4 separate regions of the Homo sapiens genome follow, and regions 2, 3 and 4 are each linked to region 1. The links come from fine-mapping of genetic effects on gene expression. A gene starts in region 1. Each other region holds a variant in brackets. All regions are shown on one strand. Distances are between the middles of the regions. Region 1 holds the start of PELI2 (pellino E3 ubiquitin protein ligase family member 2). Region 2 has its middle 35 kb from the start of PELI2. Region 3 overlaps PELI2 (pellino E3 ubiquitin protein ligase family member 2). Region 4 overlaps LINC02284 (long intergenic non-protein coding RNA 2284).

Evidence for each region. PIP is the estimated chance that this variant, and not a neighbour inherited with it, causes the effect. A credible set is the group of variants that fine-mapping cannot tell apart.
Region 2: its variant is the best candidate, but not a certain one, in a credible set for the expression of PELI2 in blood mononuclear cells (TOPMed, PIP 0.51).
Region 3: its variant is the best candidate, but not a certain one, in a credible set for the expression of PELI2 in whole blood (INTERVAL, PIP 0.51).
Region 4: its variant is the best candidate, but not a certain one, in a credible set for the expression of PELI2 in esophagus muscle (GTEx, PIP 0.62).

The regions. Positions count from the first base shown.
Region 1 is chr14:56,116,010-56,120,173 of GRCh38, forward strand. PELI2 (pellino E3 ubiquitin protein ligase family member 2) reads left to right here and starts at 2,402. Exons shown (of 6, transcript NM_021255.3): 1 at 2,402-2,728. The coding sequence starts at 2,652. RefSeq lists an enhancer at 1,790-2,029 and silencers at 2,160-2,219, 2,260-2,519, 2,810-2,879.
Region 2 is chr14:56,081,511-56,085,674 of GRCh38, forward strand. No RefSeq gene overlaps it. Among named protein-coding and RNA genes, the nearest start is that of PELI2, 35 kb to the right of the region's middle. The variant G/A (reference allele first, on the strand shown) is at 2,414.
Region 3 is chr14:56,294,651-56,298,814 of GRCh38, forward strand. It overlaps PELI2 (pellino E3 ubiquitin protein ligase family member 2), which reads left to right. Exons shown (of 6, transcript NM_021255.3): 6 at 1,950-4,164. The coding sequence ends at 2,516. Among named protein-coding and RNA genes, the nearest start is that of LINC02284, 14 kb to the right of the region's middle. RefSeq lists an enhancer at 2,199-2,698. The variant G/A (reference allele first, on the strand shown) is at 2,518.
Region 4 is chr14:56,324,440-56,328,603 of GRCh38, forward strand. LINC02284 (long intergenic non-protein coding RNA 2284) reads left to right here. Exons shown (of 7, transcript NR_187174.1): 3 at 1,741-1,786; 4 at 3,744-3,922. Among named protein-coding and RNA genes, the nearest start is that of LINC02284, 16 kb to the left of the region's middle. The variant A/G (reference allele first, on the strand shown) is at 2,227.

The sequences.
Region 1 (4,164 bases):
GTTAAAAATTGAGAGGTTTGGTGTAATCAGGATTTGAGGCTTTTAGAAAAATTACATCTAGCAAGAGTGAACTGTCATTGTCACATGGCAACAATCAGCTAGAGATGAGTGACAGATAAGCCCTGTAGACGGCACAGACCCTACCAATGTGCCACAGTCCTCACTCAGCCCATTTGCTCATTTGGATTTCCATGCCTGGTCCCTGTATGTATTCTTGACTGTGATCAATAGAATTGCTCTTACCAGTCAGAAGCTTTCAGGGCTCAGAGTGATTCACAGAGCTGATCTAGCCTTGAGCTGCCTAGGATAAAAAGCCTCCATTGACACAAAAACTCATTCACAACAACACTTCCTGTAAGTCAGTCTGATAAAGACAGACCTGATTAAGTACTATAAACATTCTCAAAGACATGTTGGGAGAGTAGAGAGACATGTCCCTCTGGAAGTCAGGGGTGCCACAGGCAGATAGCTAGACGGGGGGGCCTTGGAAGATTGGGATATCCTATGGGAAACTCTCAGCCTAGTGCTGGGAACTTAGTAGGAGGTTAATACATATTTCTTTCTATCTTCCTAAGAGCAGATGCGAAGCACAGCAAGGAGGAAATGCAGCCAGAACAGTATAATGCAATGCAACGCACACAGGCACAGCAGGCCAAGAGAGAAGGAAGGAGGTAATGGTAGCCTAGAGAGCAGAAGCAGCAACAGAGGAGGCCTAGAGAAGCTAGGGTGACAGAGGCAGGCATCATCGTAATCGTGACGGCGCAACTGCAGAATGATTCTGACAGATCTTTGATAGTCATACAATCTATGTGGTAAGTAGATGCACAGAGTACATGAAGACAACATTAATCCAGCAGAAATTTGAAAGAAATTTACATCAACACTGGGGAGGAGACATGATTTATCCCTTTAGTGAAGGAGTGCTGGTTAAAACTGTAACAGATTTTTTATTACATATAAAAAATATAGAGAATACGTAATATATGCAGAATAACTAATATTCATTTGAAATACAGAATTTCTATAGTTAGCTGAAATAAGTTAACTGTTTAATAAAGTTTATTTTTGGCTTACCAGTGGTGTGGCTTTAGTTACTTTGGAATAATTTATTTCTAAAACCTCAATTAAAAAAATCAGTTCCTAACTGAAGTAAAATTATCAGAAACATCATGTCACTACCGTAATAACCTGTCAGAGAATGTTACACAAGGGGTGCAGCACAGCGGAATGGAAGGTTACAGATGCAATTATTATTTTTTCTAGCCCTTTGCTTCGGGTCATAGCCAACCAGTCACTATACACAGGGTAGCTTCTGCAGTATTTATTTCTTTAAATATTTAACAGTGTTGAGAGGCAATGACTCGCAATAATATGTAGAGTTTCTAGCACATTATGAGTGCTTAATAAATGTTAGAACAATAAAATCCTGTATGATGAAAAACAGCAGTCAGTAAAACTATACAGTCTACGATATTTTAAAGCCATAGCAATAACTAGTTTAAAAAGAATAGAAAGCAAACAGTGCATTGATTAAATCACGGTCATAAAGGAACATTTACGTTCACTAAAAAGTCCACCCAGGTAATTTCCCCTTGTATGTATTAGGGGATGGAAAGAAGGCACAGGAAAAGTGGATAAAGTATGGATTAAAAAACAACTCTTCCCCCATCCCCCCGCCACCCCCCAAAAGCCAGGTGGAGCTCTATTGACCACAAGCCGGGGTAGCTACATCCAGTGCAACGGTGGGGTGCTCCAAGCGCCTTCGAAACGTCCTCTACGCCAGCACCAACTGGCAAAACCTTCTAATTTTCTAGACGCCTTTCTGCTTGGTTTTGGAAGGGGAGGCACCCAAGTGGGTGTGTGCGACACCTCTAGTTGTAAGCCGGGACACAGTGACGTCGAGAGAGCGCTATTCTACTCGGAGAGGAAGTTAATCCCATCGAACTCCAGCCAGGAAAACGTGGGCTTGGGAACCGCGGCCGCTCGTTTCCAGGATCTCCCGCGGGCCTTCGCGGCTGAAGAACCAGGCGGCGAGGGCTGAGGACCCCGCGCTCTAAGTTTGGGGAAGGAAGTGAGGAAAAAAAACAGAGCTGCTCCTTTAAGAACTTCCTTTCCCTTTTACTCTATGTTTACATAACACAGGGGCCGAGCCTCCGCCGGGCCGAGGGGGGCGGGGAGTGGGCGCGGACGGCCCCACGCGCCGGGGGAGGGGGCGCCCCGCGGGCCGGGGGCGGGCGCCTGGCTCTGCGTGGGGCGGGGCGGCTCCCACCTGCCCGCGCGCTGGCCCCCGCCTCCCCCGCGCGGCCCCAGCCTCTCGTGCGCCCGCTCCCTCCTCCTTCCCTCCCTCCCGCGGGGCTTCGGCGGCGGCGCTCAGCGCAGGCAGGTCCCCCTGCTGCCGGGTCCCATTTGTTGCCGGCTCTGACTCGGGGCGGCCGCGGCGCGCGGAGCTCCGGGGAGTCAGGCGGAGCAGCCGCGCAGCCACGACGGAGCAGCAGCGGGACTGGCCGCCCCGCGCCCCCTTCGCCGCCGTGCCCTTCCCCGGCGCGCTCACCCCGTTCTCGGGATGGGATTGTAGCGGCGGCGCGGACTCGGCGGGGATCGCGGCGGAGGCGGCGGCGTCGGCGGCGGCGTCGGCGGCCGAGCGGGGCTCCATGTTTTCCCCTGGCCAGGAGGAACACTGCGCCCCCAATAAGGAGCCAGTGAAATACGGGGAGCTGGTGGTGCTCGGGTGAGTCCTGGGGTCCCTGGTCCCGGGCAGCGGCGCGGGCGGGGAGCGCCCGCATCCTGGAGCGGGGCTGGCGGGGTGGCTCGGTGCTCTTTGGGGACCGCCGGGGCGCTCGGGGCGGCAGGAGAGGCTCTCAGGGCCCGGACGGCGGCGCGGGGGCGGGATGCGCCCCATCGGCGCGCGCTCGGGGTGCTGCGGCGGACGCCGGGCTGCGCTGTCCGCGCGGAGGACGCGGCGGAGGAAGTGGCCAGAACTCGGGCGACCCAGCGGGGGCAGCGCCGGGCACCGGGTCCGCGGCCGTATCGTGGGGGCGGGGGCAGGGGCTCCACTTCCCGCGCGCCGCGTCCGGGCCGGGGAGGGCGGGCAGGGACTCCATGTGAGGCGCCGCGGTCGCGGGCGCTTCGCGGGGTCGCTTCCCGAAGCTGAGAGGCCGGCCGGCGCGGAGCCCCGTCTTCCCACCTCCCTCGCGGACCGTGGTACCCGCGCCCCCGAACTCCGAGCGCGGCGCCGTGAGCTTGGGCCGCCGCGGGCTGTGGGATCCCCGGCTGCGCTTTGCAAATTGTTCCGATGACCGCCGCGGGCCGCCGCAGCCCGAGAGCAGTGAACTGTGTGTGACCCGGGCCGGCCGGCCCTCCGCTTCTCCCCGCTTGGAGTGCTCTGGAGGGGAGGGACAGGATGCGGCTGCTCGGGGCCTGGCACCGGGGCGCGGGCCGTATCCCCCCGGTCCCGGCCTCGCTGATGCCCTCCCGGCTGCGGGGAGCTCGCCAGCCTCGCCCGCCTCGGCTCCCTCTCTGCTGGTGAAAGCCGCATCTTGAAGATAGTAATTATGTACAATCGTTAAACGGCAGCAATTAGAGACTTCATCTACTTCCTGAGTTTCCTTGTGACATTTCTATTGTTTACCCTTAATAAGCCAGGAGAGAGGCTTTGCGGGCTTAAAACTGGATATAGTGGGCAGTGAAAGGGGAGGGGGAAGGGGGAAGTGCAGGAAACTGGGGGGAAGGAACAACTTGGGTTTAGTGTTGAAGAAAGGATTATTTTTTCCTTTGGATGTGTCGCTCTGGGAACCCGCGCTTTTGTCCTTCTGCGTTGAAAGACCTGTATTCAGAACATCCTCGGCGCTGATAGGTAGGCTTAGCACACATATGAGGAGTCATGGCTGTGGGAAGACTCAGGGAACTTTGCAAAACGTGTTTTGATAAGTGAGTGCCTTGAAGTAAGTGCTGACTTAAAAATAATTTAAAGAGAGGAGTTTTTGAGGGAAGCTTCCAGACACCGCACAACTCAAAGCTTCCCAGTCTTCCTGACTTTGTTGCTAGTGCATTAAGTGGGGGTGGTATTGGAAATCTCATTACCTATTTTGAAGCTGTTTGCAGATAAGTGTTTTTCTCACCTACATCTTAATTGCACTTCAAAGACAAATATCAGGGTTCACAGGA
Region 2 (4,164 bases), 34 kb before region 1:
CCTCCTCTTTTTCATCTGTCTGCAGATGGGATCCTTGTTTCTCCGGAGTCATCTGCAAGTGTTACTGATCTCCCCATCTGAAACCCCAGTCAGTGGAAGAGAGTGAGATTTCAGGGGAGTTTATTCATATCCAGTCTATATATTTTTGATTGAAACCTGATATCTTGACTCCAAGTGTCTCGTGATCTGCCGTCACCCAAATGTGTTTTTGAGGCTTCATCCCAGTGGTGTTTTCTTGTGCTGCAAATAGAAAGCTGATGCTTTCTTTCCTGTTGTGGAAAATGTTTGTATGTCAGTTTTCAGAAATAAATATTCTAAAACTGTCCATGGAACATTCTAGGGTGAATCTTAAGAGTGGAGAAGGCCTTGTTTAAGTAGGGTTTGGTTAGCATCTGGCCTGGATTTAAATGATCACATTAGGAGAGCAGCCTGTGAAATTTCAGCTTAATTAACTATAATATTAACTATTAGTGCAAAGAAAAATGGGAGAAAGAGAGGAACACAGTGGGGAAAGGAAAAGGGAGAGGCAGAAGCTGGGAGACTGACTAGATTCGAGGAAGAGAAGAGGAAAAGTTCAATGCAGGTGCTTAGAGAAAACCATCAAAGATTGGAAGAGAACTAAGGGTTCAGTGACAGGGAGGCTAAGGGATGAAAAATTCCCAAAGGAAGGCATCCAAAGTGAGAGATTTCAATAGAATAATTAGGCTAGATTGCCATAAAAAGACATAAAGGTATTGAGTTTTAGCATCTCGTCCAAAAAGTTTGACACAGTGAAACTTAAGAAATGCAGCAGTGGCTTAATGGATAGCAGGCATTTTTTAAAATTTGAGGCATGAGGCTAAATATGAGCTTGAACATGTGAGAAGAGGTTCCCATTAAAGACATGGGAGGAAGTGGCATCGTGGACACACACAGAAAGGTTATCTTGGAAAGATAAGGGACACAGCTTCCTGCCTCTGAGATCAGAGGAAGGAGGGTGGAATAAACATGAAGCAAATCTGATGCAAAGGGTAGAGGAGTTGAGGAAGTTTACCTAGGATGGCCTCCCTCTTCTCACTAAAGATTGCTAATGAAAGGAGCTAGGAGCTCTGAAAGTAGAGGAGTGCCACTTTAGATCATGTACTTGGAAAAGCTGATCTGTAAAAAGTCGTAAATGTCCACTTGGAATGCCTAAGAAGTATATTTGAGACACAGAATGAAGAGCAAGAAAACAATGCTGCTATGGAGGTGGGGGGAAATGGAAGCTTGTTTTGAAAGCAAGCAATCCCAAAGACCAAAAAAAAAAAAAAAAAAAAAAAAAAAAGCAGCTTCACATTCACACTCTAGTTGTGTGCCTAAACTTCCTTCCTTACTGATTTTTGCAATAAAATAGTAGACCAATGGTTTGGACATGTGTATACCAAAGAGAGCTCTGATAAATTAAAAGTCACCTTGGCAGAAAGCAGTGTTCTGGATCTGGAATGCCCATGGTATATCAAAAGGTTCTTTGCAGAACAACCCCACAGATCAAGGGTCTGAGGTAGGAGTTTCTGAGTTATCTAGAGAGCTAGGCTATGGACAGGGCAGGAAATTCCTTCATAAATTACCGACGTAGTATTTGCCTTTCCTAAATGATCATAGAGCAAAGTACAATGAAAATAGCACAGTGCTGGGCTCTGAGAGTCCAGAGTTCAAGTCTGGGACCCCTACTTACTATATGGGCAAGTTACTTAATCTCTCTGAATCTGATCTATAAGATCTAGATAATCATACCTACCTCATAGAACTGTCAGAATTGGATGACATAATAAATTCCCCTTCTTCTTTCCCTACCTGCCTGAACACTTCGAAAATTTCAAATTCTAAATTGTGGAAAAGAGTGTATTTGTTATATCCATCATGATTCTATAAACATCTCTCTTAAAGATTTAAGGATGAGTTTTTTAAAGTCATGAAAGTAGAGAAAGGAATTATCAGGGACAATCTCAATGTAAATCTGGAAAAACCAGTAAGATACAGGACCTCCCTGAAGTTTCCCTGGGGTTTCCTTCGGTCTACTGTTTGCTGCGACTGCTTCCAGAGCATGCTCTCCTGAATGTCTGAAAAGAGATATGACAGGGAGGGGGAACCTTGAGAAAGAGAAAAAAGGCAGGCACTCAACGAAATCAAGATAATGGAAGGTTTATGTCTCTTCCCCTAGGAATGACAGAATTGGGTATGTGAGACTTCCTCAGAACTGTCTAATCTGGGTGTCAGGAATTTGTTTCTAGAAAGACAAGCCCAGTCCTAGGATAGCAGAGCCATCTATTCTGAAAAGTATGATAAGTTAGGCACAAAACTAACAATAGCTGCACAACTCATTAGGTTTCCTAGTCACAAAATTCTCAACATTGACATTCCTTAGCTTTGTAAAAATGTTGAAAGCAACCTCTTT[G/A]CATGAAAAGCACACTACTTCAGCAAGAAAATGGAAGTGATGAGAGAAGAACTGTCATGAGGTTTCTACCTTGCATCTGCCAGCCTACCTGCTGCTGGCCTAGCCTCTACCTTCCCCTATCACTGTGATGACCTAGCCTTGCTCCTGCCCTCAGCCAAAGTCTCCACCTGGGTGCTGGTTCCACTGTCCATTGTACCCAAGGACATTTGCTCCAGCAATTCCCTGCCGCCTCCATCCCCAACCCTGCACCTTCAAGTTCTTCTCTACAGTGGCAGTCCTATCAACTTATAAACATGCTGTTCTTTCCTAAAAATAATTCTCTTCTCTCCCTACTTCCTCTTCCAGTTATATCCCATTTCCTCCTGTCTTTAAGAAGAAAACCCCTTGAAGGAAACATCTGTTCTTGCAACCTCCAGTTGCTTCTCTCTCTTTCTCTCTCTCGTGAACCCAGTTTGGGACCCCCACCTCTCCACTCACACTACTCAAGGTCACCAATGGTCAAGAACACTGCTAACTCTAATGTAACTTCTCAGACCTCCTCTTAATTGACCTATGGGCAGCATTTGGCAAAGTTGGATGCTTTATGCCTTGAAACACTTTTCTCTCTTGCCTCCCAGTTTCTCCCGGTGTTCCCCCAACCTCACTGGCAGTGTCTTCCTCATCCCTCCAAACTCTAAATGTTGGACTTGCCCAGGGCTCATCTCTTGATACTTCGCTTTTGTAATTGCATTTACTGTCTTGGCAAACATTTCCAGTCTTACAACTTTAACACCACCTCTGTGCTGATGACTCCCAAAATTGTATCTTCACTCTGGACCTCTCCATTAAACTCACAACCATCTACCCACTTGACTCTCCAATTGGATATCTAATTGATGTCTCAAACTTAACATGTCTGAAACCGAGATCCTCGCATTCTTCTTGAAACTATCTTTGCCTGCAGTCTCCGGTTGTTGGCTACTCCATTCTTCCAGTTGTTTCAGCCCAAAGATCCTGAGGGCATCCTTGACTCTTTCCTCTCTCACACTCCCTATATATGATCTGTAGGCAAATACTGTTGGATCATATATATATATATATCTATATCTATCTATCTATCTATCTATCTATCTATCTATCTATCTGTCATTCCTAGGGGAAGAGACACCAGGGTCTTTGCACTTGCTGTTCCCTCTGGATTGCTCCTCTGCCAGGTATTCTTATGGCAAGATCCCTCACTTCCTTAGTTACTCCATCTTAGTTACTAGTTTTTTTATATATATAATAAATTATATATATATTTTTAAATTATATATTATATAATATATAAATTATATATATTTATAAATTATAAATAAAGTATATAAAATATATATATATATGTCCTTCACATTCTTCACATCACCCTCTTGCTACCATTCTGTTTCAACTCTTCATCATCTCTCACTGCTGTGGCAGTCTCTAGTCTCTCTGCTTCTATCCTTGCCCTCTGAGGTTTCTTCTCAACCTAGCAGCCAGGGCTATTCTGTTAAAAAACATAAAGTTCAATCATGAGACTCCTCTGCTCAAAACCTTCCAAGGATTCCCATCTCATCCAGAATAAAAGTCAAGTCTACATGATGATGCCCTCTTATCCCTTGACCCCGTTTCCTACTGCTTTCCCCTCAATTATGCCAATGTAACCACACTGGCCTCTTTCCTGTTCTTCAAACAACTGAGGTGTGCTTCTGCCCCAGCGTCTTTGCACTTGCTGGTCCCTCTGGATTGCTCCC
Region 3 (4,164 bases), 180 kb after region 1:
GGCAGTGGCATCCATTCCCACAGCTTCACCTAGGTGCGGATAACATCCCAGATATGTTTCTTCGAGCCTGATCTGTCTCCAACGCTGCATCACACGTGCCTTGTATGCATTACCACCACCGATACTCTGCACACCCTCACATTCAGCACACCCAAAACTGAACTGGCCTGGCTCTTGCTGTTGAACTTATTTAGTTCTCACAACAATCCTATAAGACATGTATTGGCATTATTCCAGCTTAATGGATGTGGAAGCCAGGCCCAGAGAGGTTAAGTCGTTGACTCAAGACCACAGAGCTACTAAGTGGTGAAATCAGGATTTACTCCCTCATCTGCCATTTCTCCTGTGTTTCTGTCTGTGGAAAGCACTGTTCTACCCAGACAACCAGGCACGTAAGAGGCTCTTGCTCAGATCAAGAGCTGAGTGCCATCGAGTCTAATTTCTTTCTCTCTAGTCCCTGTGCCTCTGTCTCTTGCCACTGAGACTGTCTTTGTTGAGGTGTACTCACCCTCTCTACCCAGAGAGAGCACCAGTTGCCTCCTTCACAGCTCATCTTTACCCCTCCAACCCACCCTCCAAAGTTCTAGAAGTGACCTTTTTGAAAGGTCAATCAGTTCTTTTATAGTTACCTAAACCCCCTACCAACTCCCTCTGGGCATGGATGCCAGCCTCCCTCTCCCGCCTGGGTCTCTCGTCCCCCCCCACCCAGTGCCCTGAACTGCGTCCATCCTTGTTCAGCCTGGCTGCACAGCCTCATCAAACTCCCTGTTGCTCCCTTGGTGCATATGCCATTTGGCCTCTCCTCCTTCTCCCTGCTGTGCCTTCCTGCTATCCTCCCTACTGAGGCCTGACATCTTTCTCAAATCTCTGTTAAAGAAAAACCTTTTAGAAACCATTTCTGACCGTCTGTCATCATCAGAGTAATAGTAGCAGGTATTTACAGAGTGTTGACTGCGTACCAGACAGTGTTCTCTAAGAACTCTTTGCATTTACTTATCTAACACAACCACCTTTTCTAAAGTTTAAACAAGGGGAAACTGAGGCACGAGGAGTTTAAGTAATCTGCACAGCGTCATACAGCTAATAAGTGGGAGAGCCAGGGTTCAAACCCAGAGTCCACACTCCTGGCTGCTATAAATTTGTGGCCTTGAACAGTGCTTTACTGGCCTTCATGCACTCTGAGCTCTGGGCATGTCTGCCTTCCACTACTGAAGAGCAAGTCTCAGCAGGATGGGGAAGAGGTTTTATTGGCCTTTGGTACCTCCAAGGCTTAGCATGCATCTGGCATGTGGAGGCAGCGGTCACGTTCTTGCTGACCACGCCTAGCTGCTGCTTGTCAGCTGTTAATCAGTCTTATAAGCACTTAGTGCATAGCACAGGCCTCCTTCTAAAAATGAAGGCTCATGTTGAACTGTTTAGCTTCAAACCTTAAAAATGAATGATGAAAGATAGATTCAAGGTGGAGGAAGCTAAGGGTCACCAGGAGTGCTTTGGACCCTCCAGTAATGACTGCAGGCCCCCCGCAAGATCTTCTGGATTGGCTGTCATCAAGATGAGGATGAGTCTCCACTGGATGGACTGGTAGGACATCTCTCATCCTATGGGATCAGTGAGTCATTGTGTTACTGACTTAAGGAGTTAAAAAGAAAATCTTAGGAGATTTGTGAAGTTCATTAAAATAACCACTACAGTAATTGAACATGTAAAGCTAGGTATACATACTGTGCTCAGGGCTTTGTACATACGGCATATATGTATCATATCCAGTGATCAGATGAGGAAGATGAGGCTCGGGGAGGATAGGTTACTCCCCCAGTTCTGTTTTTGTGGGATAAATTGCTTCCCTGTGTTATCTTCAAATATTTTTTTGCTTGTTCTGAGAGGAAAGAATCTTGGAGTGATTTGCTTGATTTTGCTTTTAAAAGGCATGTGTCTCAAACTTGTTGTAGGTGGAAAGTGAGACCAACGTCCTGCAGGACGGCTCCCTCATTGACCTGTGTGGGGCCACTCTCCTCTGGAGAACAGCAGATGGGCTTTTTCATACTCCAACTCAGAAGCACATAGAAGCCCTCCGGCAGGAGATTAACGCCGCCCGGCCTCAGTGTCCTGTGGGGCTCAACACCCTGGCCTTCCCCAGCATCAACAGGAAAGAGGTGGTGGAGGAGAAGCAGCCCTGGGCATATCTCAGTTGTGGCCACGTGCACGGGTACCACAACTGGGGCCATCGGAGTGACACGGAGGCCAACGAGAGGGAGTGTCCCATGTGCAGGACTGTGGGCCCCTATGTGCCTCTCTGGCTTGGCTGTGAGGCAGGATTTTATGTAGACGCAGGACCGCCAACTCATGCTTTCACTCCCTGTGGACACGTGTGCTCGGAGAAGTCTGCAAAATACTGGTCTCAGATCCCGTTGCCTCATGGAACTCATGCATTTCACGCTGCTTGCCCTTTCTGTGCTACACAGCTGGTTGGGGAGCAAAACTGCATCAAATTAATTTTCCAAGGTCCAATTGACTGAC[G/A]CCCTTGACAGCCATCTACGACTTTATTAACAGGTTACTGTGAAGATTTTGCCACTAACTCTAGATTTTACCTTTTTGTAATGCTGTTTATCAGAGGAGGGTGACAGGGGCTGGAAATAAAGAGAGGGGACATGGTGATGAAACATGGCAGGAGTGTAACAGATACCAGTGGTGTGTTGCATGCTCAAAACAGCAGCGTCGTCATTGAAGTCTGCTTGATTAAACCATAATATCTTTGTAATAATTGGATTTAAAATGCTATGCTTCTATTTTTAACCTTGGGTTTTTAACCAAGTTTTTTTTTTTTTGTAATCTTGGACAAGACTTTAAATCATATTTTACAGATGTAGAAGAAATTTATTCAAAAGTGTGGGCTCATGAAGTTCACTTCAGTGCAGTGTGGTGTAGGTGTTACGCGAAGGGCGCACAGTGTCTAGAAATACTTGATCGTGGCTCAAACCTGACCAGACAGCAGAGGGGCGGCTCTGTACAGTGTGACTGGTGGACAGATGGCCTTAGGCACAGGTGGTTTTGAAATCTGGGGCTTTTTCTGATTTATTTTTCTGACTTGTTGGGGGAGAGAATATTCATAACTTGTGGGCTTTTTTTTTTTTTAACTTCAGTGGAATTTACTTTAGATATTCATTCATCAAATACATGGGACTTCACAAACAATTTTCCATAACTTTTTAGCCTGTCTTTTGTTATTTCTGCCTAATATGATTTGCCCCGATACTCATCTTGCACGGCCAGAACTGTTTGGTTGATTAAAATACATCAGCTCTTAAAAACTCATTAACTGAGGGTAATTACAGTAGTAGACATGGTCTGGGTACTATACTACCATGTTTATTTGCTGACTGAATTAAGATTTAAGAATGATTAAAAATAAGCTTTTACTTTTTAAAACCACTTGAGGTTTCATAAAGCTTGGGGTTTTTTTTTTTCCTTTGTTAAGAAAGCCAACCAATCACAATGATATAGTCATTGTTGTGCACTCCCTTTTCACCATCTGTCACCTTCCCTTGCAGCTTAAGGAGCCCAGTAAGTTTTGAAAATGTTTGCGAATCAAACTAAATTTAAGTGGGATGATTAGATATACACAACACCAAGTGGTACATCTGCAGAGATAATTCAAAATTCCTGCTTTTGAGAGAGCAAATGAGTGTTGCTGAGGAATAATTAAATGAGAATTTCATAGGAGCTCCACCATTCCTGTTACTTTCATTTCATTTTGATTAATAATTCTTGGATGCTTGGCATCGATCGTATCACTGCTCCTAGAAGGTAAAGATCCTTTAGGACATGAGACTGGTAGAAGCTGGCTGAGATAAAATAAGTATTTATTTAAACTAATGTTCTCTTAATTTGACCATTGCAGATTTGGGTGACTTTTTTTTAACCTTTGTACATATACGTAATTTATATGATTCTAATGTACTATATCCATACTTGAATTGGTTTTTTCGTATTTTGCCTACTGGCAAATATTTTGCCTATTTTCAGTCGTTCTAACCTATTTGAATACGCTTTTCCTTAAAGTGATACGATAATATTACTCTTGATTGCTGCTGCTTAATTTGATGTAATATGTTTAAAGTTCAGCCTCTCAGTTTTAATATAGCTTTATTTTTCAGTGGAGATCAT
Region 4 (4,164 bases), 210 kb after region 1:
TGTCTCTGATTTGGGCCCTAAGAAAGACACTGGAAAAAATCCCAAACTTCACTCTCCTAGGATCTTGCAACCAAAGCTGACTATTGGTGGCTACACTGTGTACTAATGGGGTTAGTGCTACATGCAAATTATGTGGAAAAATAAAGCAAGATGACTCCACAGATTTTTACCCATAACCACAGCTACATCTGCATGGGACAAGGCAAGCCTGCCATGCCACCCACCCCCATCTCAGGCCTAAGAGTGATGGAGATGTGTTCAGATGAGAGTCTGTGACTCAGCCTGCCATACCTTCCTCTCCAAGTTCTATTCAACATGGAAACCAACTGAGGCCAGGGACTTAGGTGTCAGCTCCCTAGTTCAGTGTCAACTTAGAACCAAGCAGCAAAAAGGGTGGGTAGCTCGACGGAGAGATGGAGTAGCAGATGGAGCTATTTTATTCCTTAATTAACATAACAGCTGTAAGCAATCTCTCCCCACCCCCATAATCTTACCAACAACACTGAGGGGTTCTACCTGTGTTTATTGGCTGTTTGTGCTGTGTGTTTCCAATAATTGACAACATATGTGATTTTGTTATTCTACACTGAGCTTGCTTCGTCTGCATATTCATTAAAAAAGAATTTTTAAAATCTTTGTCAGATGTTCTACATCTGAATCATCTTCTAGTATTAAACCACAGCCAAGAACTTTTATATCTTTTATCACATTAATATAAAGATTCATGGAAATTTGGGGACTTGGTGGTTGAGAATTTTTCTAGTTTCTCCAATTTGTTTACTTTTTAAAGGCAAGCTGTAAATATTGGTGATAACGATGTGCTGAATGGAATTATATTTCTATATCCACTTCAGAAAGATTAGACTAATCCAGGAGCCAGAAATCAGTGCAATTACAAACTATCCAATTCTTGGTTGGAGTTTTGAAGCAAAGTTTTTAAAGAGTAGTTTGTGGTTTAAGTTGCATATTCCCTCTGTAGTTTACTTTGAGCTATTTGAAATGCAGAAGTACATATGTGTAAGATCATCCGTTATATCACACATAATATATAAAATGCAGATAACTGTGTAAGGCAGCTCACCAAATGGTACTTGGCATGCAATAAGCATTAAATGAATATGAATGAATAAACTAAAGAAAACGTGCTGTCCCTAACAGGGTCGTATCTGATTCCTGTGGCCAAGGAAGTGCAAGAGTCTGTGGGAGGTAATACCAAATGTTGCCAAATATGGCCTGGGGAAACAGATCACCAAGATGGACAGTATACTACGATATGTTGAAAATGGTGAAAATATGCTTTATTTACTTGAAAAAAATCTTATAAATCAGCTGAAATCGGCCACAGAAATATTTCTTGTGTGGATTTTAGCTTTTCCTCTACAAACTCTAAGCTGTAGAATCGAGCCACTCCAGTCTCTGTTGGGGATAGTCAGGGAGGCTGACTGGCTGGTGTTGAATTTGGTCCCAAGAGCTTCTTCATCATCCTCCTTCAGCTTGAATATCAGTAAGGCAAAAATAAGCTACATGTAATGTGGGCATCAGGAAGGTGAAAGAGTGGTTTACAATTGCAGACAGCAGTCTCCAGACATTAAAAGATGAGGGAAGGGTGTAGGAATGGTGGACTCCCAAAAAAAAAAAAAAAAAAAAAAAAAAAAAAAAAAAAAATTCTCCCCCTGCAAGGAACCATGTAAGGCAATCAAAAGACATAACAATAACCAACATCCACGCAACTCCTGCCAGGTGCCAAACGCTGGATGACCTCACTATCCTCATGGAAAAGGAGGTGGTAAGTACTGCTCATATCTTCTTCATTTTCCTTTTGAGGGAACCAAGACACAGAACGATAAAGTAACTTGCTTAGGTTACACCATTAGTGAGAGGCACAGCTCGGTTTCAAACCCAAACTGAGCTATTAATATTTCAGTAAAGCACCTTTATATAAATAAGGAGGTAGTTCCTAAGATCTTATCATGGCTGTGCGGCTGCAGATCTCTTCACTACTCCAAGCCCTTTTTTTTTTTTTTTTTTTTTTTTTTTGAGACGGAGTCTCGCTCTGTCGCCCAGGCTGGAGTGCAGTGGCGCGATCTCAGCTCACTGCAAACTCCACCTCCCTGGTTCACGCCATTCTCCTGCCTCAGCCTCCCGAGTAGCTGGGACTAGAGGCGCCCGCCACAATGCCCTGCTAATTTTTTTGTATTTTTAGTAGAGACGGGGTTTCACCGTGTT[A/G]GCCAGGATGATCTCGATCTCCTGACTGCGTGATCAGCCTGCCTCAGCCTCCCAAAATGCTGGGATTACAGGCGTGAGCCAGCGCGCCCGGCCCGCTCCAAGTACTTCTACACATAGCATAGGGTTCCCCTACAACTAACCACGCCGGCGACCTTGAGAAAATCCCAGACCCTTGAAAATCCAGGGCAGCCACTCCATGGTCCCTGCTCTCCCTGCATGAATCATTTGCATCTCCAGACCATGTTCCTTTCTGACCCCTAATGTTTGTCAGCCTCTCACCCCTGCGCACACCAGGGTGCCCCTTCCTTCCTGCACTGCCTTCTTCCTTGTTCTTCAGCTGTCAGATTGACTCCTCCTTTAAGAGCCATAAAGTTTGTCATGGCCAGTCCAATGCCAGGGATTATAATGCTGTACACATTCATCCACTCAGTCAACAAACATTTATCAATGTGCTTTCAGCATCAAGTTACAGAAAATCCATCATAAACTGGATTTAGTAACAATGGAATAGTTGGTTCGCATTCCTGGAAGTCACAGCAGGAGACCAGTGTTTAGGTTGCTTAGACTGGAAGCTTTAGTTCTATTTTTCGGCAAATTCTTTTTTTTTTTTAATTTTTATTTTTCTTTGAGACGGAATCTCACTCTGTTGCCCAGGCTGGAGTGCAGTGGCACCATCTCCGCTCACTGCAAGCTCCGCCTCCCGGGTTCACGCCATTCTCCTGCCTCAGCCTCCCGAGTAGCTGGGACTACAGGCGCCCGCCACCAAGCCCAGCTAATTTTTTGTATTTTTAGTAGAGACGGGGTTTCACCGTGATAGCCAGGATGGTCTCGATCTCCTGACCTTGTGATCCACACGTCTCGGCCTCCCAAAGTGCTGGGATTACAGGCGTGAGCCACTGCACCCAGCCGTGCAAATTCTTTTAAAAAGTTGTTTTTTTTTGTCAATGAATTTGTGACTCTACCCTCCTCTGCATGTTGACTTCATCCTCACTTTGTAGAAAGATGGAATAAAGAGAGTCGGTTCTGGAAGCAGAAGTCAGAACTTTCTCAGGAGTCCCTAGCAGCTTCTCATTGGTCTGATTGAGTGGCATGCCTGTCCTGGACCAATCACCAGCAAGTGGGATGAAATTACCCCTGGTGCTATCATTCCCACACTTGGAGCCAGGGTTGTGGTTGGCATATATAAGGGAACTTAATTCCTATGTGAATCTGTGAAATAAAGTAATTCATAGTTTGTAGCTCATAAATGCACAGTATTTCATTCTTACCAAGCAGGGAAATACTGCACACAACTAATTCAACAATTTTTATTTCATTTCTTGATATGTGCACATTCTGCTAACACTCTCTACATTGCTACTCATTGTGATTAAGGAAGGACCTAAGGAAATAAAAGAACCATGGGTTGCCTTATCTTTCCCTTCCATCATTTTCAGAATAAGTGTTTGACTAACACAAAGGTGTAACATGAGTAAGAAAGGCTGTGAAAAGCTTCCTTGATCATTTGTGTTTCTTAGAATACCACTGCCTTCTTTCTGTGTCCAAGCAAGTTATGACTGGAATGGAAAGTATAGCCACCCGGGGCTGTCAGTACCCCTACCTACTCAATTGCAGACATGTTGATACAGAACATGATCATCGAATTCCAGTGAAGCCACAGTGATGGGAGTCCAGCAAGAGTAAAAGCAAGTAGAAGGTAAGTATGTTACGGAGGTAGCAAATGGGATGGCTAAGATAGCAGATGTGCATATTATGTTTATCTTACCTGCTCACTGTGTGCTGTGTTGTCCCAGCAGACTTTACTTGCAAACCAGAAGTTCTAAGATAAAATTATTAAGCATTTCAAGATGGTAATAGCAGAGCATTTCCCCAAGCACAGGACCCTTCTGAGCATGTGGCCCTGTCACCTGTCCATGAAGCCAGCCCTGGATGAGTAAT